Homo sapiens: one gene and its partners. The protein of the gene in region 1 purifies or fractionates together with the protein of each later gene. This does not show direct contact. Each region holds a gene or a part of one and is shown in the gene's direction. Other genes may lie near its edges.

Region 1 (4,441 bases):
CTTGTCACAGATCACTGTTCTAGTTACTATTTATAAGAATTATCTAAAATACTTACAATACAGATTCTAGGCCCCCACTCCATAGCTGGAGAATCAGAATCTCTATGGGTAGGGCCTTCTACATCCTGTCTTTGGGTTAAACCAAACCTTAGGAATGCTGCTTATTTTGTGTATGTGCATGTGTGTGTTCTTGACTGCTTTCCCTTAGAGGTATTTAGGTGGAAAAGCATCATGAAATTCGTTATTTTACTTAAGAGTGTTCTCCTATGAGAGGGATTTTTCTGAAGTCTCGGTAACAAGAATAGTTGTGTTTCCCCTGAGCAAGTTGTTTTGCTTTTTTTTTTTTTTTTTTTTTTCCACAGAGACTTGCTCTGTCGCCCAGGCTGGAGTGCAGTGGCATGATCTTGGCTTAGTAGCTGGGACTACAGGCGTATGCCACCATGCCCAGCTAATTTTTTGTATTTTTAGTAGAGATGGGGTTTCACCATATTGCCCAGGCTGGTCTCGAACTCCTGAGCTCAGGCAGTCCACCCACCTCAGCCTCCTAAAGTGCTGGGATTACAGGCATGAGCTACCACGCCCGACCATTTTGCTTTTTTATATGGACACTATGAATCATGGACTGATAGTGTGTTACACTTAGCAGCAAGGAAGCTCTGAGCCAATTTGTAGCCTACCTTTGCATCAGGGGTGGCTTAATCAGACTTAAAGACCTATTTGAAATTCTCTGCCTAAGTTGGAGTCAAAACTGCTCAAGGTTCAAATAGTATTACAGACCTGTTTAGTCTTTAACTATTAAAAAGAACTACCATGTTCTCACTCATAAATGGTAGCTAAATAATGTGTACACATGGACGTGGATAATGGAGTGATGGGTAAAGGAGACTTGGAAGGGTGGGGTGGAAGAGTGGGGTGGGAGGGAGTAGATGAGAAATAATGAGTACAATGTATGTTATTTGGGTGACGGATACCCTAAAAACCCTCACTTTGCCACTATGTGGTCTATGCATATAACAAAATTGTGCTTGTACCCCATAAATGTATACAATTATTTTAACCTCCATGTCAGAATCCACCCTTCCTTATTTAGTGAATTGCTCCTTTATTCAGTGATTCTTAACTGAGGGTATGCATACATCTTTGGGGCTGAGTGGAAGAAGGTGGTGGTAGTGAGATGCCCTTTCTAGGGATACAAAATGTGCTAGATTTGTTTGTAACATACATTATTGAAAACAAGTTAAGCCATAACTATAATTCACCAATAAAGGACTTACAGGTGTTCATAACTTGTCTAAGCTCAAATCTCCCATATATAACTTGCTGGCAAATCATTTATTCCAGGGCATTAGCTATGAGTTGCTAGCTTTAAGTTGAACTATATCCTGTCATGGCTTACTTCGAATTGACATGCTGCAGGCTGTATCTTGACATATACAAGATAGCATGTGATGTGGCTTTGTTTTAATTCAGTTAGCCACTGGTTTTTAATGTGTGGGTTATATTTTACTCCCAAAGCAAAATTCTGTGGCATCTCTGGAATACTACCTGAGAATTTTTGTGTGCCATGTCGAAGAAACGCAAATGGGATGATGACTATGTTCGCTACTGGTTCACCTGTACAACGGAAGTAGATGGAACTCAGCGTCCACAGTGTGTGTTGTGTAACTCAGTATTTTCAAATGCTGACCTCAGACCATCAAAACTGTCAGACCATTTTAACAGACAGCATGGTGGTGTAGCTGGGCATGATCTCAATAGCCTGAAGCATATGCCAGCACCATCTGATCAGAGTGAAACCTTGAAAGCATTTGGAGTTGCATCTCATGAGGATACTTTATTACAAGCATCGTATCAATTTGCGTATTTATGTGCCAAGGAGAAGAATCCTCATACAGTAGCTGAAAAGTTAGTGAAACCTTGTGCACTGGAAATAGCACAAATAGTTTTGGGACCAGATGCACAAAAAAAGCTTCAGCAGGTACCCTTATCAGATGATGTGATCCATTCTAGAATTGATGAAATGAGCCAGGATATCTTACAGCAAGTTCTAGAAGATATCAAAGCCAGTCCTCTTAAAGTGGGTATTCAGCTTGCTGAGACAACTGACATGGATGACTGCAGTCAGCTAATGGCATTTGTGCGCTATATAAAAGAAAGAGAGATCGTAGAAGAATTTCTCTTCTGTGAACCATTGCAGCTATCCATGAAAGGAATAGATGTGTTCAATCTCTTCAGAGACTTCTTTCTGAAGCATAAGATAGCACTTGATGTATGTGGCTCTGTTTGTACTGATGGTGCCTCCTCTATGCTAGGAGAAAATTCCGAGTTTGTTGCCTACGTGAAAAAAGAGATACCTCATATCGTAGTTACACATTGTTTATTGAATCCTCATGCACTTGTCATAAAGACATTGCCTACAAAACTGAGGGATGCTCTGTTTACTGTGGTGAGGGTAATAAATTTCATCAAAGGGAGAGCTCCAAATCATCGCCTATTTCAGGCTTTCTTTGAAGAAATTGGCATAGAATATAGTGTCCTCCTTTTCCATACTGAAATGAGGTGGCTTTCCCGAGGCCAAATACTTACTCACATTTTTGAAATGTATGAAGAAATAAATCAGTTTCTTCACCACAAGAGCAGTAATTTAGTTGATGGCTTTGAAAATAAAGAGTTTAAAATTCACCTAGCATACCTTGCAGATTTATTCAAACACTTAAATGAACTCAGTGCATCTATGCAGAGGACTGGGATGAACACAGTATCAGCTAGAGAGAAGTTATCTGCTTTTGTTAGGAAGTTTCCATTTTGGCAAAAACGAATTGAGAAAAGAAATTTTACCAATTTTCCTTTTCTTGAAGAAATAATTGTTTCAGATAATGAAGGCATATTCATTGCAGCTGAAATAACACTGCATCTGCAACAATTGAGCAACTTCTTCCATGGATATTTTTCCATTGGAGATCTTAATGAGGCAAGTAAATGGATATTGGATCCATTTCTTTTTAATATCGATTTTGTTGATGATAGTTATTTAATGAAAAATGATCTTGCTGAATTACGAGCTAGTGGCCAAATCCTAATGGAATTTGAGACAATGAAGCTTGAGGATTTCTGGTGTGCCCAATTCACAGCATTTCCAAACCTGGCAAAGACAGCTCTAGAAATCCTTATGCCATTTGCAACTACATACCTTTGTGAGTTGGGATTTTCATCACTTTTACATTTCAAAACAAAGTCCAGAAGCTGCTTTAATCTGAGTGATGATATCCGTGTGGCTATTTCAAAAAAAGTTCCTCGTTTCTCGGACATCATTGAACAAAAGCTACAGCTACAGCAGAAGTCACTGTAAGCTGATATACTTTTTTAATGAATAATTTCAATCTTAATATCATTGTAAAATTAAGCTGTAATTCTGTCTCTTTCATATTTATGATATACTGAATTCTATGTCTAAAAAACTTAAGAACTTTAATTTTGAATGAGGCATGTGAAAATATGTTTTGAGAATAAAAACACAGCAGAAAAGATTAAGTACTACTGCCTAGTTGCTATCATGAGATTTTCCCAATTCTAAGTATCTGTTTAACCTGTTCGTGTGGTATATGAAAAAGATACCTAAGCACTAGAATATCCAGCTAAATGGTGCAATAGGCTAGGAATTGAGCCAGGAGAAAAGAGAAGATATCCCAGAAGTCAAAAAGGCAAAATGAAAGATTGAGTTCGCCCGTCTTTGTTATGGAGAGGTTAATGAAATCAGAAGAGGATTATGAAATATAATGGGAAAAGGAATGATCTGGCTTATGTAAGACTTACTTTTAAATATACTCTTTGGAGTTAGTCTCACAATGTCCATTCCCCTAGCTCCTGTGCTATGAATATCATATTAATAAATAGCCTAATATATTAATCACTGTTTGTCATCTTTAAATTACTTCAGAACTCCAAGTTATCAAGGCTGCTGAAAAGGAGATTCCTGAGCCTTACCCTAGAGATTGTGATTAGTAGGCCTGTGATAAGGTCAAGGATCCTCATTCATAACCAGCTTTCCAGACTGTTCTGATGGATTCTTGGATTCTTGGGTCCTCTGGGTTCAATTTTTCCTATACTTATTTTTCCTTTACCCTAATTTTGTCACTTATATTACATCTTATATGTATTTTTCTAAGTTCAAAATGTCAGAGTATAAATCATAAATAAATTGACATGAAATCAATGGAGTAATTCAAGACCATCAAAAAATTCCCCATGGGAATCTAACTTAGCACACTTTTTCTGGATGATAATTTGGCAAAATATTTTTTAATTTAAATAAATTTTCATTTCTATTTTTAAACATTAATATTTTATCAAAGTACTACATGCTCAAGGCTGGGAAAAAATGATATAGAGAGTCCTATAAGGAAAAGCCACAATCCCCTTCCTGCCCAATTACCCATTTCTT
Region 2 (7,034 bases), on another chromosome or scaffold:
AAGATCTCCTGGGGCAGACAGTCTGGCCACAGCGTGTTTCTCTGTGGCCCCGTGCGGGGCGACCTTGCTACCCAGGCCCACAGTAGGCTGTATGCGAAGAGCCTGCGCCTCTGCCTCCAAGAAGGCCTCCAGGTCTGCATCCTGCATGAGATGGACATGAGAGCTGATCCCCAGGGCCTTCATGGGGAAGGAAGGAGGGGGCTTGAGGAGCTCAGGCCTGCTCTGACTGTGCCTTTTTTCCCCCTCAGGTTTCTGCAAATGCGTGAATGAGCCGGATGCCAGCCTCTGTCCCCTGGAGCCCAGCGTGAGGAAGAGGCATGCCCCATCAGCCTTCAGCTTGAGCCCGGCGGCCCCCGCCCCCGCCCCCTGCCACCCTGCACTGCCCCGGCTCCCCCGCGGCCCCCACGCTGCAGTGCGGCCGGGCCCCCTCCCCGCAGGGGCCGCCCCCGCCGCCCACCCCTAGCGCCCGTGGTGGTGGTGGTGGTGGTGGTGGTGGTGGCCCGGGCCGCAGGGCCATGAAACTACAGGCCGTGATGGAGACGCTGTTGCAGCGGCAGCAGCGGGCGCGCCAGGAGCTGGAGGCCCGGCAGCAGCTGCCCCCCGATCCCCCTGCTGCACCCCCCGGCCGGGCCCGGGCTGCCCCCGACGAGGACAGAGAGCCCGAGAGTGCCCGGATGCAGCGGGCTCAGATGGCCGCACTGGCAGCCATGCGGGCTGCAGCTGCGGGCCTGGGACACCCAGCCAGCCCCGGCGGCTCTGAGGATGGGCCCCCAGGCTCGGAGGAGGAGGACGCGGCCCGGGAGGGGACACCGGGCTCACCCGGGCGAGGCAGAGAAGGGCCAGGAGAGGAGCACTTTGAGGACATGGCCTCCGACGAGGACATGTGAGTTGGGGTCTGGGGCAGGGCCTTCTGGGGGCTGTTACTGGCTCTGAGTGTCACTCTGCTCATCTGCAGAATGGGAGTAAGGGTCAGGTCGCGGGATCTCCTTCCTGTAATTCCAGCAGTTTGAGAGGCCGACGTGGGAGGATCACGTGGGCCCAGGGGTTGGAGACCAGCCTGGGCAACATAGCAAGACCCCATCTCCGCAAAAAATTAAAAAATTAGCCAGGCATGGTGGTGCACCTGTGGTCCCAGCTACTGGGGAGGCTGAGGCAGGAGGATCCCTTGAGAACAGAAGTTGAGTTGTGATTGTGCCACTGCACTCCAGCCTGGATGACAGAGATAGACCCAGTCTCAAAAGAAAAATGGTTTTTTTAGCCGGGTGCTGTGGCTTACGCCCGTAATCCCAGCACTTTGGGAGGTCGAGGTGGGTGGATCACCTGAGGTCAGGAGCTCAAGACCAGCCCGGCCAACATGGCGAAACCCCATCTCTACTAAAAATACAAAAATTAGCCAGGCGTGGTGGCAGAAGCCTGTAAACCCAGCTACTCGGGAGGCTGAGGCAGGAGAATGGCTTGAACCTGGGAGGTGAAGATTGCAGTGAGCCAAGAATGTGGGTTTTTTTTTTTTTTTTAGACAGAGTCTTGCTCTTTTCGCCCAGGCTGGAGTGCAGTGGCGTGATCTCAGCTCACTGCAACCTCCTCCTCCCGGGTTCACACCATTCTCCTGCCTCAGCCTCCCGAGTAGTTGGGACTACAGGCGCCCGCCACCACGCCTGGCTAACTTTTTGTATTTTTAGTAGAGACGGGGTTTCACCATGTTAGCCAAGATGGTCTCGATCTCCTGACCTCATGATCTGCCTGCCTTGGCCTCCCAAAGTGCTGGGATTACAGGCGTGAGCCACCACACCCGGCCAACTTTGTTTCATCTTAGTTAACTTAAAGCAACCTAGCCACCGATGGCTACAGCAGATTCAGCGGCAGGGGCAGATAAAATCTGCAGCCGGCTGGACCTGCATAGCGTGTGGGTCCCCCCAGGGCTGGCTGAGGGCTCACTTGCTGTGGGATCCTGGCCTCCAGGAACCCGCATCTTCCTGGGAGGACCTGAGCAAGCAAAGATGCTGGGCGCAGTGGCTCACGCCTGTAATCCCAGCACTTTGGGAGGCCGAGGTGGGAGGATTGCTTGAGCCCAGGAGTTCAAGACCAGCCTGGGCAACCTAGTGAGGCCCCATTTCTACAAAAAGTACAAAAATTAGTCGGGTGTTGTGGCATGCATCTGTGGTCCCAGCTACTCGAGAGGCCGAGGCGGAAGGACTGCTTGAGCTCAGGAGGTCAAGACTGCACTGAGCTGTGATCACACCACTGCACTCCAGCCTGGGCAACAGAGAAGACCCTGTCTCAAAAAACAAAACTGGCCGGGTGCAGTGGCTCATGCCTGTAATCCCAGCTACTCAGGAGGCTGAGGAGGAGAATCGCTTGAACCTGGGAGGCAGAGGTTGCAGTGAGCCGAGATCGTGCCTTTGCACTCCAGCCTGGGCAACAAAGTGAGACTGTGTCTCAAAAAAAAAAAAAAAACAACCAAACAAAACCTAGCAGCAAAGAAGCAGGTGATATCAGGTTGTACAAACAGCTGCCAATGGCTGGGCGTGGTGGCTCACGCCTGTAATCCCAGCACTTTGGGAGGCCGAGGTGGGCGGATCACGAGGTCAGGAGATCGAGACCATCCTGGCTCACACGGTGAAACCCCGTCTCCACTAAAAATACAAAAAAATTAGCCAGGCGTGGTGGCGGGCGCCTGTAGTCCCAGCTACTTGGGAGGCTGAGGCAGGAGAATGGCATGAACCCGGGAGGCGGAGCTTGCAGTGAGCCGAGATTGCGCCGTTGCACTCCAGCCTGGACGACAGAGCGAGACTCCCTCTCAAAAAAAAGACAAAAAAAAAAAAACGGCTGCCAAGAAAGTCTAGGAGGGTGCCGTGGAGGGGCAGTGGCGAGGGTGGGGCGGATTTCAGATGGCGGTGGGAGAATTCTCCCTGTGGAGGGAAGGGGAGGTGGAGCTGGGACAGCATGCATGGTGCAGGATGCAGGAACCAGCCTGCCGTAATGATTCCCTTTTTTTTTTTCCCAAGAGAGTCTTGCTCTGTGGCCCAGGCTGGAGTGCAGTGGTGCCATCATAGCTCACTACAGCCTCCATCTCCTGGGCTCAAGGGATCCTCCCGCCTTGGCCTCCCAGAGTGCTGCCGGGATTATAGGTGTGCGCCACCGTGGCTGCCTGCGTGATGCTTTTCAAGGCCCCAAAATTCACGCTGTAGGGACGGCTTGTGCTGTTCTGGGCTAATTGGAAACAAAGTGGGCGTCACGGGTGCCCCACGCTGTGCTCATGAGCGCTCTCTGCAGTCTGAGCTGGCGGCGGCCGGCTCTTCCTATTTCCAGAGAGGGAAACTGAGGCTGGGCGGGGAGTGGGTCTTTCCTTGGGCTGGGACGAGCCAGCACCTTCTCCCCTGACTCCTGCCCTCTGCTCACCCCAGGAAGCCCAAATGGGAGGAGGAGGAGATGGAGGAAGACCTCGGGGAGGATGAGGAGGAGGAGGAGGAGGATTACGAGGATGAGGAGGAGGAGGAGGACGAGGAGGGGCTGGGCCCCCCAGGCCCTGCCAGCTTGGGCACCACGGCACTGTTCCCCCGAAAGGCCCAGCCACCCCAGGCCTTCCGCGGCGATGGCGTTCCCAGGGTGCTGGGGGGCCAGGAGCGGCCGGGGCCTGGCCCTGCCCACCCCGGAGGGGCCGCCCACGTAGCCCCGCAGCTGCAGCCGCCTGACCACGGCGACTGGACTTACGAGGAGCAGTTTAAGCAGGTGAGTGGGCGCGTCCCGCGTGGCGGCTGAGGCACCTGCTCCTGGGCCAGTGGGGCCCTTTGAAGGCCCACGTTGCACGGGGTGTGTGCTGAGCCGGGCGTCGAGTTGAGAGCTGGGGGTTCCTGCGGTAGCTGTGCTTCCTGTGCTTCCCTCCTGGGCGTGGGCTCGACCAGCTGGCTGTTCATTGCTCTGATGTGGGATGTGTGAGGAGCACCCGGCCGGGTAGGAGAAACCTGGGGGGCTCCACGGCCCCCATATCGGAGGTGATGGGGCAGAGATGGAAAGGTGGGCCTGGGAGGGAGAGGCTGGCGCCGGCCCGAGCTGGGCTTGGGTTGGAGGAACCAGGCCTGCGGGCGATGCGGGCAGAGAGGCCGGGGCCTTGGTGACGTGGTGACTTGGCCTCCTCTGTCCCCTGGCATCTGTGGAGAGCCGTGGGGGGTTGCGGGCTGCAGCTGGCAGCCGAGGGGATGTGGGGGTGGCTCAGGTGTGGCTGCAGGAGACGCAGGAGCCAGGGCCTGTGAGGCTCCGAGTGGGCGGTTAAGGCTGGGGCCGGCAGGGGGTCTCAGGGACCCCAGGCTGAAGGAGGAAGTAGGGGCCGCCCCAGCCTTTCCCCGCAGGCGGCCAGGCCAGAGGAAGTGGCCGGGCGGGGGATGCTTTGAAGTTGGGCCGTGCTGGGCCGGGCAGATGGAAACCAGATGGTGGCCAGGCTCACATTCCAGCCCTCGTCCAGCTGGGCTCTGCCTCGACCTCTGGGCGCGGCTGGGGGGAGCCACCTCCTCGCCCGGGGCTGGAGCTGGTCTGGGCTCCCGCAGGGAGGTGGATGATGGACACGCTGGGACATGCCTGCCTCGGGGCAGCCCCTTCGGCCCTGGGCTTCCAGAATCCGCTCTGAGGAGCCTCCTAGGAGGGGCCAAGGCACAGACACCCAGGGGGGCCTCCCCGGGGCTCCTGACTCCAGGGGTGCCGGGTAGCTTAAGGGGCGGCCCTAACCCCAGCAGCCCTCAAGAGACTTAAGGTTGGGCTGCCTGGAAACTCACAAATAGTAAAGAGCTGAAAGCCGGACACGGTGTGGGAGAATGGCCAGGGCAGCGGCGGGGACTCGGTGGGGGGGGGGGGCGTCTCGCTGATTCCACCCTGCTCTGTGACTCAGTTTCCCACTCCTGCAGAAGGGGATGCTCCACGGGCCACACTGCCGCGCGTCCCATTCTGCCAGTGAGAAAACAGAGGCTCAGTGTTGGGAGGAGGGGTCTTGTGATCTTTTCTGGGTTTAAGATGATACGGATGAGCATGCTGAGAGTGGATTCTCTTTAATTTCATTAATTTAATTCACCAATTAATTTAACATTCACCCAATATTCGCCATCTGCCCGGGACTCAGCCCGCAGGGAGCCCTGGGCTGGAGGGGCGGGCAGGAGCCGGACGGAGACCTCCATCCCCGCAGGGTTATAGCCAAGCCGAGAGGGAGGGTCAAGGCCCCCCATTCAGTCGGTCCTTCGGGGGTCAGAGGTGAATGGGACCCCCTGACCCTGGACACACGCCCCGCCCAGACAGCCCCGGCCTCCAAGGCCCAAAGCCGATGGGGGAGTTTTGGGGTGACTGGCCCAGACCAGGCAGGGATGAGGGGCCAGGCGCCCTGACCCCACAGCCCGCAGCATGTCCTGAGCGAAGGCAGGAGGCAGAAGCCACTGTCTACCTTGTCTGGGCGACACCGCGGGTCAGGGTTGTAGGTGCCATGTGGGGTTTTTCTGCAGCGGGAAGCCGAGATGGGGAAACTGAGGCCAGTGCAGGGAGGGGGGTCACTGTGTCACCGGCAGCCTCAGGTATTCCTGGAGATCCTGCCGCCCCGCACCTGCCCCCTGGGTGTACCGGGCAGTGCAGAGGCCCTGAGGTGGACTAAAGCTCGGCTTGTGTGTAGGGACCGGGTGCCGCCTCTGGGTCTTGCGGGAGACGGGATTGGAACTCCGAGAAGATGAGGGCCTAGGGATGGTCGTGGGCAGCGGGGGTGGGGGGAGGCCCCCGCCCTGCAGTCCTGTGACTTTTTTTTCTCTAGAGAAGGGCTTTCACGGTGTTGCCCAGGTTGGTCTCAAACTCCTGGGCTCAAGTGATCTGCCTCACTCAGCTTCCCAAAGTGCTGGGATTACAGGCCTGAGCCACGGTGCCCAGCCAGTCCTGGGATCTTATCCTGGGCTGTTCGTGGCAGGTCCAGCCGCCGATGCCGCCGCCCGCCCAGCTGGCCAGACACCTGTGTTCCCAGTGTCAACAGTGGCCTGGGCCCAACCAGCCCAGTCAGTGTTACCTCCCGCCCGGCCCCTACTGGGGCCCCTGTTGACTCTGGCGCCTGCCCCACCCCCTTCCTGGCACGTGGCAGGCCTGGCCCGCTGGCCGGCCGCTTGGCACCGTCTCTGCCTCTTCCTCCCAGGTCCTGGCAGGGCTCGGGGCTAACTTCCGCCTGCAAATCCTCGACAGCTGTGAAATTCTGCTGTCGGCTGCAGGTCTGGTGGGTGGCCAGGCCGCGGCGGGGGGCCGGGCGCAGCAGGCTCAGGGCCACGGGTTCTTTCCTTGGACACCTGGAACCTTGCTGCCTGGGGCCTGGGGACGTGCAGTTTTGGAGGCCAGCACGTGTCGGGCAGTGATTAGGATCTCAGCCTCCTGATGTCTGACGTAGCCTCCTGGTGGCCTCCTGTCACCCACACAGCAGGCCCAGCTTCTAGAAAGCGGCCACGGTAGGATTTTATTGGATTATTATTATTTTTGAGGCAGGGTCTTACTCTGTCGGGTAGGCTGGAGTGTAGTGGTGCTGTCCTAACTCACTGCAGCCTCGATCTCCTGGGTTCAAGCGATCCTTCTGCCTCAGCCTCCTGAGTAGCTGCGAGTACAGACGGGCGCCACCAAACTCAGCTAATTTTTGTAGAGACGGGGTCTTGCTATGTTGCCCAGGCTGGTCTAGAACTCCTGGGCTCAGGTGATCTGCCCTCCTTGGCCTCCCAAAGTGCTGGGATTACAGGCGTGAGCCACCGCACCCCACCATGGTAGGATTTTATTTATATATTTGTTTATTTATTTTTTGAGACGGAGTCTCGCTCTGTCGCCCAGGCTGGAGTACAGTGGCGCGATCGCGGCTCACTGCAAGCTCTACCTCCCGGGTTCACGCCATTCTCCTGCCTCAGCCTCCCGAGTAGCTGGGACTACAGGCATCCGCCACCGCGCCCGGCTAATTTTTTGTATTTTTAGTAGAGACAAGGTTTCACCGTGTTAGCCAGGATGGTCTCGATCTCCTGACCTTGTGATCCGCCTGCCTCGGCCTC
Region 3 (7,034 bases), on another chromosome or scaffold:
ACCTAACATAAAGCTTTTCTCCCTAGGTGGATGATGACTTTACAGCCCAAGATTACAGGCTCCAGTTTCGTAAATGTACTTCAAATCATTTTGAGGATGTATATGTAGGTTCTGAAACTGAATTCATAGTATTGCACATAGACCCCAACGTTGATTACCAGTTCAGAGTCTGCGCCCGAGGAGATGGCCGACAGGAGTGGAGTCCTTGGAGTGTCCCCCAGATAGGTCATTCCACATTGGTGCCTCATGGTATGCTGCTAACCTTTTCTCTCCTGAAGCCTAACTATATATTAGAATACCTGTATTCTGTGCTAAGGGCAGCACACTGACAACCAGCTATTCTAAGCATAGATCCTGAATTGATAAGAACAACATGCACCATGTCTTTTACTCAGATTACCTCATGTGATTTTTGTTTTCATCAGTTCTTCAGAGTCCAAAAAAAATGCTGGACAAGATTTTTAGCCTCATTGAAAACCAAAGATTGAAAATATTATGTAGGGCACTGATATTCCTTTTTATTCTTTTTTTTATATTTGAATGTTATTTAGTTAGTTTTTTTGAGACAAGGTCTCACTCTGTCGCCCAGGCTGGTGTGTGGTGGTGCAATCATGCAGCCTGACCTCTAGATCCTTCTGCCTCAGTCTCCCAAGTAGCTGGGACCACCTGCATGCACACCACACCTGGCTAATTTTTTATTTTTTTCTAGAGACTGGGTCTTGCTATGTTGCCCAGGCTGGTCTCAAATTCCTGGGCTCAAGCAATCCTCTTGCCTCGGCCTCCCAAAGTGCTGGGATTACAGGCGTGAGCCACCGCGCCTGGCCTATTAATTAGATTTTTATCAGGTTGGAATAAGTTCAAGCAATTATGCTTGTACAATGATTTTATTAGATAAGAGATAACACTTGTGTGATTTATTATGTCAAAATTATGCAGGAATATACTAAAATCTTTTGTAATTTGTGGGACTGATCATGATACCCTGTTAATGGAATCTTTTATTTTATTGAACTTGACCATGGCCCCTAAGAGTAGTCTCCCATTTCCATGTTTTATTTAACGTGTCTGTATTGAAGATATCCCTCAAGAGATTCTAACAGTTTTCAATATCTTTGCTTTGAAAAAGAGTGGACAGCTGGTTTTGAGGGGTACAGTCTGAGCAGTCGAAGAAATATAGCACTTCGGAACGATTCTGAATCATCGGGTGTTCTCTACTCCAGAGCTCCGACTTATTTCTGTGGGCAGACATTAACATTCAGGCAAGTAGATATTAAAACATCTCACCTGCCTCAGGAAGCAGAGTGAAGTGCATAGAGCATACATAAGCTTTGAATTCAAAACATCCTGAGTTTATTCCGTCATTTATAGGCAGTGTTACTGTGGGAAGGCTTCTTTATTTCCTGTAGCTGTAGTTTTCTCATCTGTATTCACAGGGTTATTACGTAGATTAACTGGGAAATGTATATAAAATGCTTGTTATTTAATATGTTTATATCTCTTTTCCTCTTGGTAAGTAGAGGTAAGTAGAGTATCTCTCAAAAGTCAATCTTAGGCTGGGCATAGTGGTTCACACCTGTAACCCCAGCACTTTGGTAGGCCGAGGCAGGTGGATCACCTGAGGTCGGGAGTTCGAGACCAACCTGAGCAACATGGAGAAACCCCATCTCTACTAAAAATACAAAATCAGCCGGGCATGGTGGCACATATGCCTGCAATCCCAGCTACTTGGGAGGCTGAGGCAGGAGAATTGCTTGAACCCAAGAGGCAGAGGTTGCAGTGAGCTGAGATCATGCCATTGCACTCCAGCCTGGGCAACAAGAGCGAAACTGTGTCTCAAACACACACACAAAATTAAAAAGTAAATCTTAAAAATTTAGAGGCCTGGCCAGGCACGGTGGCTCACACTTGTAATCCCAGCACTTTGGGAGGCTGAGGCGGGCGGATCACGAGGTCAGGAGATTGAGAACATCCTGGCTAACATGGTGAAACCCCATCTCTACTATAAATAAAAAAATTAGCCGGACATGGTGGTGGGTGTCTGTGGTCCCAGCTACTCGGGAGGCTGAGGCAGGAGAATGGCGTGAACCCGGGAGGCGGAGCTTGCAGTGAGCCGAGATCACGCCACTGCACTCCAGCCTGGGCGACACAGCAAGACTCCGTTTCAAAAAAAAAAAAAATTTTAGAGGCCAAGAGACTGGACGCAGTGGCTCACACTTGTAATCCCAGCACTTTGGGAGGCCGAGGCGGTTGGATCACTTGTGGTCAGGAGTTCGAGACCAGCCTGGTCAACCTGGTAAAACCCCATCTTTACTAAAAATACAAATATTAGGACAGGCGCAATGGCTCCCGCCTGTAATCCCAGCACTTCGGGAGGCTGAGGTGGGTGGATCACAAGGTTAGGAGATCAAGACACCACCCTGGCCAACATGGTGAAACCCCATCTTTACTAAAAATACAAAAATTAGCTGGATGTGGTAGTGCACACCTGTAATCCCAGCAACTAGGGAGAGTGAGGCAGGAGAATCACTTGAACCCGGGAGGCAAATGTTGCAGTGAGCCATTGCACTTCAGCCTGGCAACAGGGCAAGACCCGTCTCAAAAAGAAAAAAAAAATTAGCAGGGTGTGGTGGCACACACCTATAATCCCAGCCACTCAGGAGGCTGAGGCATGAGAATTGCTTGAGCCTGGGAGGCAGAGGTTACAGTGAGCTGAGATCGCGCCACTGTACTCCAGCCTGGGTGACTGAGCGAGACTCCGTCTCAAAAAAAAGAAAAAAAGCATAGGCCGGGCACTGTGGCTCATGCATATTATCCCAGCACTTTGGGAGGCCGAGGTGGGCAGATCACGAGGTCAGGAGATCGAGACCATCCTGGCCAACATAGTGAAACCTCGTCTCTACTAAAAATACTAAAAATTAGCTGGGTGTGGTGAGGTGCGCCTGTAGTCCCAGCTACTCGGGAGGCTGAAGCAGGAGAATCACTGGAAGCCTGGAGGCGGAGGTTGCAGTGAGCAGAGATCGTGCCACTGCACTCCAGCCTGGGAGACAGTGCAAGATTCCGTCTGGAAAAAAAAAAAAAAAAAAAAAAAAAAAGCAAAAAAATTTACTGGCCAAGAATTTGTTTTGTCCTTTGTGAATCATTAACAGCAAGTCTTTGTAAGAGACAACACTGTAAACATATTATGTATATGCTACTCTCTAAAGTAAAACTGAAAGCAAGCCTCCCCTACCACTAATTAATGTTGTTTCTCTACCCATTTCTTTCTGTAATGGAAAAGTTTCTTTTTTCTTGTTTTCATGTTATCTGAGATGTATTCTTTATAGTCATGTTTCTGAATAGCTCTTCGTAGAAACTAAAGACCAGTTTTGACTTAGAGAAGTAAAGTTTGCCTGATTTTCACCATACTCACCTTAGTGTAACAAGCTCTCCTCTAAGTTTTAAGTCTTGAGATGGGATTTTATTGTGAATGCTTGACCCAAGTTCCTTTTGTTCTCAGGCCCTTATTATTTAAGGCATGGAGAATATCTGAATATTTTATCTAAGCCAGTGTTGCTGTATTCCTCTCCAGCTAAGTAATTTGAATTGTCAGCGGTTGTCAGATTATACTAGTTTGTTTTGTCTAATTTTTGACACCTCACCCCTTAATGAAGAATGACTCAGTAAACAGAAAAATACCAACAAAGAGAGAGAGAGGAAAAAAAAAAACAACTAATACCTAAAATCTATTTAACTATTCCCCAGGTAATCATGAGTTTTCTGTACTTACATACCCCTTCTCTGCTTATGTCCCTTGTTTACAGAAGCACTTCGGTTAGTGACTCTCCTGAGAACAAGGTATTTCTGTGCAATGACAGAGCTTCCTAACTTGATAAATTCAGGCCAGATATCTCAGACTGCAATAATGATGATAATAATAATAATTGCAGTTAATATTTAAACAGTATTTACTATGTGCCATGTACTGTCTTAAGTATTTTACTTGTATTAACTCATTTGATTTTCATGGTAACCCAGTGAGATAGATGGGTTATTTATTTTAGGGATGAGGAAACTGAGGCATAGAGAAGTTATTTACCCAGTGTCACACAGCTAGTAAATGCCAAAACTAGGGTTTAAATCCAGGCAGTTCGACTCCAGACTGGTCTGTATTGCTTCTTTTTCATGGGAGAGTTAACATGATTCTAGTTAGTGTTGAAGTCTACAGTTTCTCTATTACTGTGTCCTTAGCTCTTTAACTTTTACCTCTTATGACCTTTCACCACTTGATCTGATGCTCTCCTGCTTTTTAAATTCTTCCTCCTTGGACACATGGTAATGTCTGATAGATTGCATAGTTAGGTTTATTTCTTAGACCATTCAGTAAATATTTATTAAGACATTGGAAATTATACAAATTGATTTAAATTCACCTCTGCTGACCGTGATGTGAAAGACACATTAGGTCTCAATAAACTGTTGAGTCTCTCTTGCATCTCCTAAAGATGCATCACCAGGCCCCACTTGGCAGGGTGATTAACTGAAATTCAGTTAAACTCAATATAATGGTAGCCAGCCTTTTGCATTTTTGTCATTTTTTTCTTTGTGGAATGAAATGTTTTCTCCCCTTGTTTAAAGGAATTTCAGGCATCAGCAGTGAAGCCAGAGATGTGAATGCAAGGGGGACTCCATGCATAAGGGCATAAGGGAGGAGCAAGTGCGCCTACTTGAATCAAGAGAAACAATATTTAGTTTTTTGAGGGTACTTAAGGGCCTAGTAGTTAGAAGGGAGACTATACTCTTGAAGGCACTACGTTAGCCGGGCACGGTGGCTCACGCCTGTAATCCCAGCACTTTGGGAGGCTGAGGTGGGCAGATCACGAGGTCAGGAGTTCGAGACCAGCCTGGCCAATATGGTGAAACCCCATCTCTACTATAAATACAAAAATTAGCCGGGCGTGGTGGTGTGTGCCTGTAATCCCAGCTACTCAGGAGGCTGAGGCAGGAGAATCGCTTGAACCCAGGAGGCGGAGGTTGCAGTGAGCCGAGATCACGCCACTGTACTCTAGCCGGGGCAACAGAGTGAGATGCTGTCTCAAAAAAAAAAAAAAAAAAAAAAAAAAGAAGGCACTACTTTGTTATTTATCCCAGTCAGTCCCTGCTGAAGCTTCTGGAAGGCTTGGAGCTGCTGAAGCCAGAGAAACCTGTGATACTGGCTGGATTTTAACAGTCTCTAGACCCACTCTCATTAGATGCCCAGGTCTGCTAGCAACCCCCTCCTTCCAGGTCTCCCTCACTTCCTATGTGAACATTCCTGCTCTTTCCTTGCTTCTAAGATTTTCTGATTTTTTTTAAGGTTTCCTTCTTTCTTTTCTTTTCTTTTCTTTTTTTTTTTTTGAGACAAAGTCTCATTCTGTTGCCCAGGCTGGAATGCAATGGCACAATCGGCTCACTGCAACCTCCACCTCTCAGGTTCAAGCGACCCTCTCACCTCAGCCTCCTGAGTAGCTGGGACTACAGGCGCCTGCTACCACGCCCGGCTAATTTATTGTATTTTTAGTAGAGACGGGGTTTCACCGTGTTAGCCAGGATGGTCTCAATCTCCTGACTTTGTGATCCGCCCACCTCGGCCTCCCAAAGTGCTGGGATTACAGGCGTGAGCCACTGCACCCGGCCTATTTTCTTTCTCATTCCCCTCCCCAGCTCTCCCCCTCTTTTTGTTTAAGACAAGGTCTCGCTCTGTCGCCCAGGTTGAAGTGCAGTGGCATGATCTCAGCTCACTGCAATCGCCATCTCACAGGTTCAAGTGACCCTCTCACCTCAGCCTCCTGAGTAGCTAGGATTACAGGAGCCACTACCACACCCAGCTAATTTTTGTATTTTTTGTAGATACGGGGTTTCACCATGTTGCCTAGGGTGGTCTTGGAACTCCTGACCTCAGGTGATCCACCCTCCTTGGCCTCCCAAAGTGCTGGGATTACAGGTGTGAGCCACTATGCCCGGCCCCTCCTCCCCATACTTCTTTAGACTGCTCAGATATGAAATAACTTCAGAAACCTACCCAAATATTATGATCCTGCATGTTTGCTATTTCACAATCAATGACATTTTGAGGCCACATTGACTATAAATAATCACATCTGTCTTTGGAAAAGCCACATTTTGTTTCACACTAATTTTTTTTTTTGTCCTTGCAAAGTTGGCTTTCTGGATGGAGAGAATGATGTGTCTGGCAATAGGGATCTGTACATTTCCTATTTCAAGAGCACACAAAGTACTGACATCTGAAATGAAAACACAAAAGGAAAAGCTTAAACTTGCCACATAGGAAGTTCTTCATGCTTGAATAGTGTCTTCATAACCATAATGGGATTTTTTAGGATTATAATAGTTCTTTTTAAATGCTTTATTTACTTAACAAATAGTAATCAAATCATTGCAAATTCTTATATGGAAGATTTAGGCGCTGGCAGCAATAGTTACATAAATTATAATGTCAACTATGACAAACCTTCTATGTGTCTAGAGCTAGAATATAAAATAGAAGTGTGCCATCATGGCTACAAATGGTTAAGAATATAGATTCTAGGCCGGGCACGGTGGCTCACTCCGTAATCCCAGCACTTTGGGAGGCCAAGGAGGGTGGATCACCTGAGGTCAGGAGTTCCAAGACCAGCCTGAGCAACATGGTGAAACCGTGTCTCTACTACAAATACAAAATTAGGCCAGGTGTGGTGGCTCACGCCTCTAATCCCAGCACTTTGGGAAGCCGAGGCAGGCGGATCACCTGAGGTCAGGAGTTCGAGACCAGCCTGACCAACATGGTGAAACCCCGTCTCTACTAAAAATACAAAACTAGCCGGGCATGGTGGTGCATCCCTGTAATCCCAGCTACTCAGGAGGCTGAGGCAGGAGAATCGCTTGAACCAGGGAGGCAGAGGTTGCAGTGAGCTGAGATCGCGCCATTGCACTCCAGCCTGGGCAACAAGGATGAAACTCCATTTCAAAAAAATAGATAGATAGATTGATTGATTCTAGAGTCAGAATGCCTGTGTTTG
Region 4 (7,034 bases), on another chromosome or scaffold:
AATTTGCACCAATGTAGGGACCAGCCCCACATGATCGGTGGGTTTTTCTCCCTGTGTGCAGAGACGAGAGATTGTAGAAATAAAGACACAAGACAAAGAGATAAAAGAAAAGACAGCTGGGCCTGCGGGACCACTACTACCAAGACGCGGAGACCGGTAGTGGCCCCAGATGCCAGGCTGCGCTGATATTTATTGGATACAAGACAAAGGGGCAGGGTAAGGAGTGTTGAGTCATCTCCAATGATAGGTAAGGTCACATGGGTCACGTGTCCACTGGACAGGGGGCCCTTCCCTGCCTGGCAGCAGAGGCAGAGAGAGAGAGGGAGAGAGAGAGAGACAGCTTACGCCATTATTTCTGCATATCAGAGACTTTTAGTACTTTCACTAATTTTGCTACTGTTAACTAAAAGGCAGAGCCAGGTGTACAGGATGGAACATGAAAGCAGACTAGGAGCGTGGCCACTGAAGCACAGCATCACAGGGAGATGGTTAGGCCTCCAGATAACTGCGGGCGGGCCTGACTCATGTCAGGCCCTCCACAAGAGGTGGAGGAGTAGAGTCTTCTCTAAACTCTCCTGGGGAAAGGGAGACTCTCTTTCCCAGTCTGCTAAGTAGCGAGTGTTTTTCCTTGACACTGACGCTACCGCTAGACCATGGTCCGCTTGGCAATGGGCATCTTCCCAGATGCTGGCATTACCGCTAGACCAAGGAGCCCTCTGGTGGCCCTGTCCAGGCATAACAGAAGGCTCGCACTCTTGTCTTCTGGTCACTTCTCACTGTGTCCCTTCCGCTCCTATCTCTATATGGCCTGGTTTTTCCTAGGTTATGATTATAGAGCAAAGATTATAATAGTATTGGAATAAAGAGTAATTGCTACAAACTAATGATTAATGATATTCATATATAATCATATCTATGATCTATATCTAGCATTAACTCTTGTTGTTTTATATATTTTATTATACTGGAACAGCTCGTGCCCTCGGTCTCTTGCCTCGGCACCTAGGTGGCTTGCTGCCCACATCCCAAAGTATAAAATAACCACGTGTCCATACTGATGTATATAAATGGTTGAATAGGTGGGTGAGAATAGACACACCCCATGCAAAAGAATTCCATGTAATTGACGTAGATACCCCTCCCTCAAGGAGGCAGTTGATTATCCCAGCTCTTACGTGTGGGCTGCACCCAGTGACCCCCTTCCCAGTGGTACACTTTGGAAACCGGGTTGAGAAAGAGGAACTTGACCCTGGAGAAACCTGACCTCAGCCAGGGGAGGAAGGTCAGGGGTGAGTTCTCCTGAGAGTGGGATGTGGGGAGGATGGCCCTTTTCCTTTGTAGCCTTTCTCCCAAGAACCCATCAGCTCAGTCTAACCATGAAAAAAAACAGCAGACAGCCCCAACCTGAGGGACATTTTACAAAATATCTGACCCATGTTCCTCAGATCTGTCAAGGGCATTAAAAACAAGGCAAGTTGGCCGGGCTTGGTGGCTCAGTGCGTGTAATCCCAGCACTTTGAGAGGGTGAGGCAGGCGATCACCTGAGGTCAGGAGTTAGAAACCAGCCTGGCTAACATGACGAAACCCCATCTCTACTAAAAATGCAAAAATTAGCCAGGCGTGGTGGCACACACCTGTAATCCCAGCTACTCGGGAGGCTGAGGCAGGAGAATCGCTTGAACCTGGGAGGCGGAGGTTGCAGTTTTCCGAGACCACAACGCTGCACTCCAGCCTGGGCGCCAGAGTGAAACTCCGTCTCAAAGAGACAAGGCAAGTAGGAGAAATAATTGCAGTCTAGAAGATCTTAAGGAGACGTGAGGACTAAAAGCCATGTTGTCCTGGATGGGGTCGTGGAACAGAAACAGGATGTTAAGTACACACCAGGGAAATCCGAATAAAGTGTGGACTTCAGTTAATAATGATGTAAGGAACATTGGCTCCTGATTTATGGCAGATGTACCCCAGGAAGGTAACATGTTAACAGTAAGGGAAATAACTTTTCTATATATCTGTATCTATACCTGTAACTATTCTAAAATTAGAAGCTTTTTTTTTTTAAAAAAAAAAGGGAAAACAGTAAACAATAGCTCATCACTCTTATTTTTAAAAGGTTGGAATAACATTAGAGATGTTCTATAGGATCAATTTGAGATTTCTGGAGTTTACTTTCTGACCCAGTTTTCTCAAAAATATGAAATTCTTGTTGCATAAGTCTGACTTGTCACTGGGGGATCATTCCAGATAAAGAATTTTCTGGTGAGGCCTCGGGACCACATCTGAATGAAAGTGAGGAGGCGAGTGTCTGAACAGCCAGCATTTCGTGTCTGTTTCCCCTCTGCATAACATAAAAATTAACGTATGATAGCACAACATATGTAAAGTCACCTTGGTAGAGGCACTAGGCGGAAGGGAGTGGGCATCTCTTGGCTGGCAATGAGCTGGGTGCCCAGCCATCATGGTGCAGGGCAGTTGCCCTTCTCAAGCAACTGATCCAGAGACATTTGAGCAGGGGACTGTGACCACACTACAGTACACACCACGACCGTGTGACAGTCACAGATACAGACACTGAGTTTAATGGCTTGGGGGTGGAGAAGTTGCCAGTTGCCCACCCTCTGATAAAGATGTTAGTGAAAATATTATAGATTTATTGAGGTTTGTCAAAAAATTGCTGCATCTCAGATATAAATGGGCAAAATAAAATGAATTAAGGTTAGGGTTTTTTTGTAGATAACCAAGAATAAAATGTAGTGATTTTGTTTTATTATGCCAGCTGTAATAAAGTCTTAAGGAGAATGCAGGCTGTAAAAGCTTAAAGAGAATAGGGGAACAATTTTTTTAAATATTTAATGAAATGTCAAACATTTTACCACATTTTGAAGAAATAAAACATTGTAGATATAGCTAAAGCCTCACTTTCTTACTTCTTCACCCCTTCCTCCTGAGAGGTAACCCATTGTCTTGACAGTGATGTGTATCATTGCAGGTATTCGTGAATAACTTTTCTATGTATATAACATATGTATGTGTATATACATACATATGGATGTATTAAGTAATACATTCTGTTGGTTTTGGTGTTTTAACAATTTATTTAAATTAAAAGCTTAACAGATCTGTTTATTTTTCTTTTCACTGATCATTATTGGCATTGGTTTCTGGTGCTAAGTGTAGATCTCATGGGGGTTTTTTGGTTGTTGTTTTTTTTTCCACTTTGTAACATTCCACTATATGAAAATAAACCAATTTGTTTTCATATGCTTGTGGAAGAACAGTCACTGTGGGTTGTATCCTTTTTTGGTGTTCATGGCTAGGATGATTCTTGTATGTGTTTCCTTGTGAACACCAGAATTGTGGGACTACAGGTGTGTGCCACTTCAGCCTTAATAGATATTGCCAAATTGCTCTTCAGAGTGCCATACATAAAATTTGTACATTTCCATTTTTCCACATCTGTGAAAAATCTTACCAGATTTATCAGATTCCACATTTTATCAGACTCACTTATCTTTGCCAGTCTGAGGGGTGTGATACATTTCCCTGATTGTTAGTGAGATTGAACATCTTTTCATATAGTTGAATTTATTAGAAGTCCTATCAAGAATTGCCTATTTAGGCCGGGTATGGTAGCTCATGCCTGTAATCCTAGCACTTAGGGAGTATGAGGTAGGAGGATCACTTGAGTCCAGGAGGCCAAGGCTGCAGTGAGCCATGATTCCACCACTGCACTCAAGCCTGGGCAACAGAGCAAGACCCTGTCTCAAAAAAAAAAGAACTAACTGCCTGTTTATTGCCTGTTAAGTGGGCTGGTATTTCTTAGAGACCTTTGGCCTTGGACCTGATTCCTCAGAGTGTATGATAAAAGAATACAGCTGCATGCTATCACAAAGTTAAATTGGAGGTGGGTGAGAAAAAGAGTTTAGTCTTTGACCGTATTTAATTGTTTTATTTACTCCTATGCCGTTTGATTTTCTTTGTGCCTCGTTATTGCTGACTGTGTCTCTTATTGGTGTAGGAAAGAGTTCAGGTAAGTAAGTTATCTGGTTTGTTAGGTTTGTAATTAAGTATTTAACAAAAATGTCTTTGGAAAAGTGCATTTGCAGTTTCCTAAAAAGATGACAGTTTTACAATACGACCCAGCAATTATGCTCCTGAGTGTTTGCCCAAATGATGACAACTTTTATCCTTATAAAAACTTGGGCTTTCCTTATAAAAACCTGCGCTTGCTGGGAAGCTGAGGCAAGAGGATTGCTTGAGCCCGGGAGTTTGAGACTGTAGTGAGCTATGGTCATGCCACTGTACTCCAGCCTGGGCAACAGAGTAAGGCCCAGACTCAAAAGCAAAACAAAACAACTTTGCACATGAATGTTCCTATCACCAATTATTCATAATTGCAAAAAACTGGAAGCAACCAAGATATTGTTCAGCAGGTGAGTGAACAAACAAACTATGATACATCCACACAATGTAATATTACTCAGCAATAAGAATGATCAAGCCCTGAAAGACATGTAAAAACCATACATGCATATCGCTATGATTCCAATTATGTGATCTTCTGGGAAAGGCAAAACTATGGAGTCAACAAAAAGATCAGTGGTTGCCCGGGATTCAGGGGCAGGAAGGAAGGATGAAAAGGTGGAGTACAGGGCATTTTTAGGGCAGTGAAACTATTCATATGACGCTGGAATGGTGGATTCATGGCATTATACCTTTGTCAAAACAGAATTGGCTGGGCATGGTGGCTCACACCTGTAATCTCAGCACTTTGGGAGGCAGGTGGATCACTTGAGGCCAGGAGTTCAAGACCAGCCTGGACAACATAGTGAAACCCCATCTCTACCAAAAATATGAAAATTAGGCAGGCGTGGAAGTGCATGCCTGTAATCCCAGCTACTCAGGAGGCTGAGGCATGAGAATCGCTTGAACCCAGGAGGCAGAGGTTGCAGTGAGCCAAGATCACGACAGAGCAAGACTGCACTCCAGCCTGGGAGACAGAGCAAGACTCTATCTCAAACAACAACAACAACAACAACAACAAAAAACCCCACAGAATTGTACAACACAAATAGTGGACCCTAATGTAAACTATGGACTTTTGTTAATAAAAATTTATCAATATAGATTCATCATTTATAACAAATACAGCACACTGATGTTAATAATGGGAGGAATTGGGTGCAGGGGAGGAGGGGTTATAGGAGGACTCAGTTCTATCTGACCAGTTTTTTCTGTAAACCTAAAGGCATCTAAAAAATAAAGTCTATTAATTTTTCTAAAAATCTTTCATTGTTAAATTCAGATTTTACCAAGTGTACTCAAGTATGTGGAACAATTATGTTTTCTAATAGAAACTTTTTAAGATTATTTGTTTTATTTATGAAATCTAAATTGCTGAAGCTTTTTCAAGACGACTGCTTCCATTTTTTGTGGATCTATAAAGAATGCACAGTTCATGTTGAAAATCATTTCGTTCCTTTTTGCTTTCTCAAGTAGTAGAGTGGTACAAAGTATTAATTGTGTAAGTTTTTCTTTGTATGATTAAATAATTTAGAGCAAATATTTTGCATATTACTACATCAAAAATCTTTCCAAATATTGTAATAACTAAAGTAATCTGGAATGTTTGTCTTGATTCTTACTAATTCTTTATAATATAAAAGACCTTCTTTCATTGATTCTAGGACTTCCATTCTAGGACCTCTCTGAAATCAGTGTACCTCTTAGAATCAGTAACATCTTAGATTCAGTGAAATACGATATGTCTAATAAGGGTTCGGAGGAAGGGCTATAATAATTGTTACAGAATCATGATAATTTTTCACTGATGTTATGGGACCGTTCTGATTTTCCCTTGCCTGCCTGTCTTCCAGATGCTCTCTGTGTGGGTATGTGTGTAGCCATCCTCCTTCTTTGAAGTCTCATATGTGGAAACATGCAAGTGACCAAAATTACAACTACGAACAAGTAAACAAGGCTATTAACGACGCGATTTCACAAAGTGGCAGGTATTTCATCCTACCCCCTCCCTTTATTGCTATATGTAAATTAAAGCCAGGATTAAATCTACTAGTCCTACATTGTAGCCTCCTCACGGTGTGCTGTGTTTGTTTTGTTTTTAAGAGTTCTGGGGAAATCCCCTGGAAAGACTCAATTAAAGAGCAGTGAAGAGAGTGCAGATCCCGTCACTGGAAGTTCAGAAAATGCAGTGTCATCTTCAGAACTGATGTCCCAGACTCCCAGTGAAGTTCTGGGTACCAACGAGAATGAGAAACTGAGCCCTACAAGTAATACCTCATATAGTTTAGAAAAAATCTCCAGTCTGGCCCCTCCTAGCATGGAGTACTGCGTTTTACTCTTCTGCTGTTGTATTTGTGGTTTTGAATCAACCAGCAAAGAAAACCTCTTGGATCATATGAAAGAGCACGAGGGTGAAATTGTAAACATCATCCTGAATAAGGACCACAATACAGCTCTAAACACAAATTAGGTGGAATAATGACTCGAGCAGGAAAGCAGTAGAAGAGGATTCCTTCACCACAGTTTCACCTTTACGCTGTCAGACAACTTCCTGCCACAGAAGAAGTCGTTGATGTGATTTTTGAGGAAATGACAGATGTGACTTTGGAACCAAACTTGTAATAAAAGGAATTCCAAATGGACAAGCAGTAATGATATTTAAATATTTTGAGTGAGGGGGAGTGGGTCAAAGAGGAAGTAGAGGTGTAATCCTGTATTAACCCTCTGTCACCCCTTCTTAGTGTCGAGTGTATTTATTAATAAAAGCTTATTAGAGTGTAGAAATGCCAGCAAGAGTTAAGAAAGGGCTTTTCAGGAACTATTCTAAAAGTCATAAAAGGGTCACAGTCTTAAGCAGAGCTTAGTTTTCTTCTCACTTGTCAAATGCAGACTGTGAGGCCTCCAGTGAGAAATGGGAGGCAGTTCTGGGAGGGGGTTTTTTCAGTGTCACCAACAGAGTCAACAAGGAAACATAATTAGAGGGCTTTGAAATGATCTACTGAAATACCTAAATT

What was found.
Region 2: the proteins of FAM200C (region 1) and ARID3A purify together in Homo sapiens (affinity purification with mass spectrometry; 2 studies listed by BioGRID and IntAct, with this or other methods). This does not show direct contact.
Region 3: the proteins of FAM200C (region 1) and CRLF3 purify together in Homo sapiens (affinity purification with mass spectrometry; 2 studies listed by BioGRID and IntAct, with this or other methods). This does not show direct contact.
Region 4: the proteins of FAM200C (region 1) and ZNF507 purify together in Homo sapiens (affinity purification with mass spectrometry; 2 studies listed by BioGRID and IntAct, with this or other methods). This does not show direct contact.

Annotation. Positions count from the first base shown.
Region 1 is NC_000005.10:160,392,614-160,397,054, reverse strand, and holds the end of FAM200C (protein FAM200C), read left to right. Parts: intron 1-1,515; 5' UTR 1,516-1,564; coding exon 1,565-3,349; 3' UTR 3,350-3,907; downstream 3,908-4,441.
Region 2 is NC_000019.10:929,014-936,047, forward strand, and holds part of ARID3A (AT-rich interactive domain-containing protein 3A), read left to right. Parts: exon of another isoform or gene 1-132; intron 133-248; 5' UTR 249-515; coding exon 516-883; intron 884-3,404; coding exon 3,405-3,729; intron 3,730-7,034. UniProt on the Homo sapiens protein: Transcription factor which may be involved in the control of cell cycle progression by the RB1/E2F1 pathway and in B-cell differentiation.
Region 3 is NC_000017.11:30,786,665-30,793,698, reverse strand, and holds part of CRLF3 (cytokine receptor-like factor 3), read left to right. Parts: intron 1-26; coding exon 27-249; intron 250-868; exon of another isoform or gene 869-1,126; coding exon 1,127-1,259; exon of another isoform or gene 1,260-3,061; intron 3,062-6,037; exon of another isoform or gene 6,038-6,260; intron 6,261-7,034. UniProt on the Homo sapiens protein: May play a role in the negative regulation of cell cycle progression.
Region 4 is NC_000019.10:32,376,594-32,383,627, forward strand, and holds part of ZNF507 (zinc finger protein 507), read left to right. Parts: intron 1-5,873; coding exon 5,874-6,008; intron 6,009-6,123; coding exon 6,124-6,490; 3' UTR 6,491-7,034. UniProt on the Homo sapiens protein: May be involved in transcriptional regulation.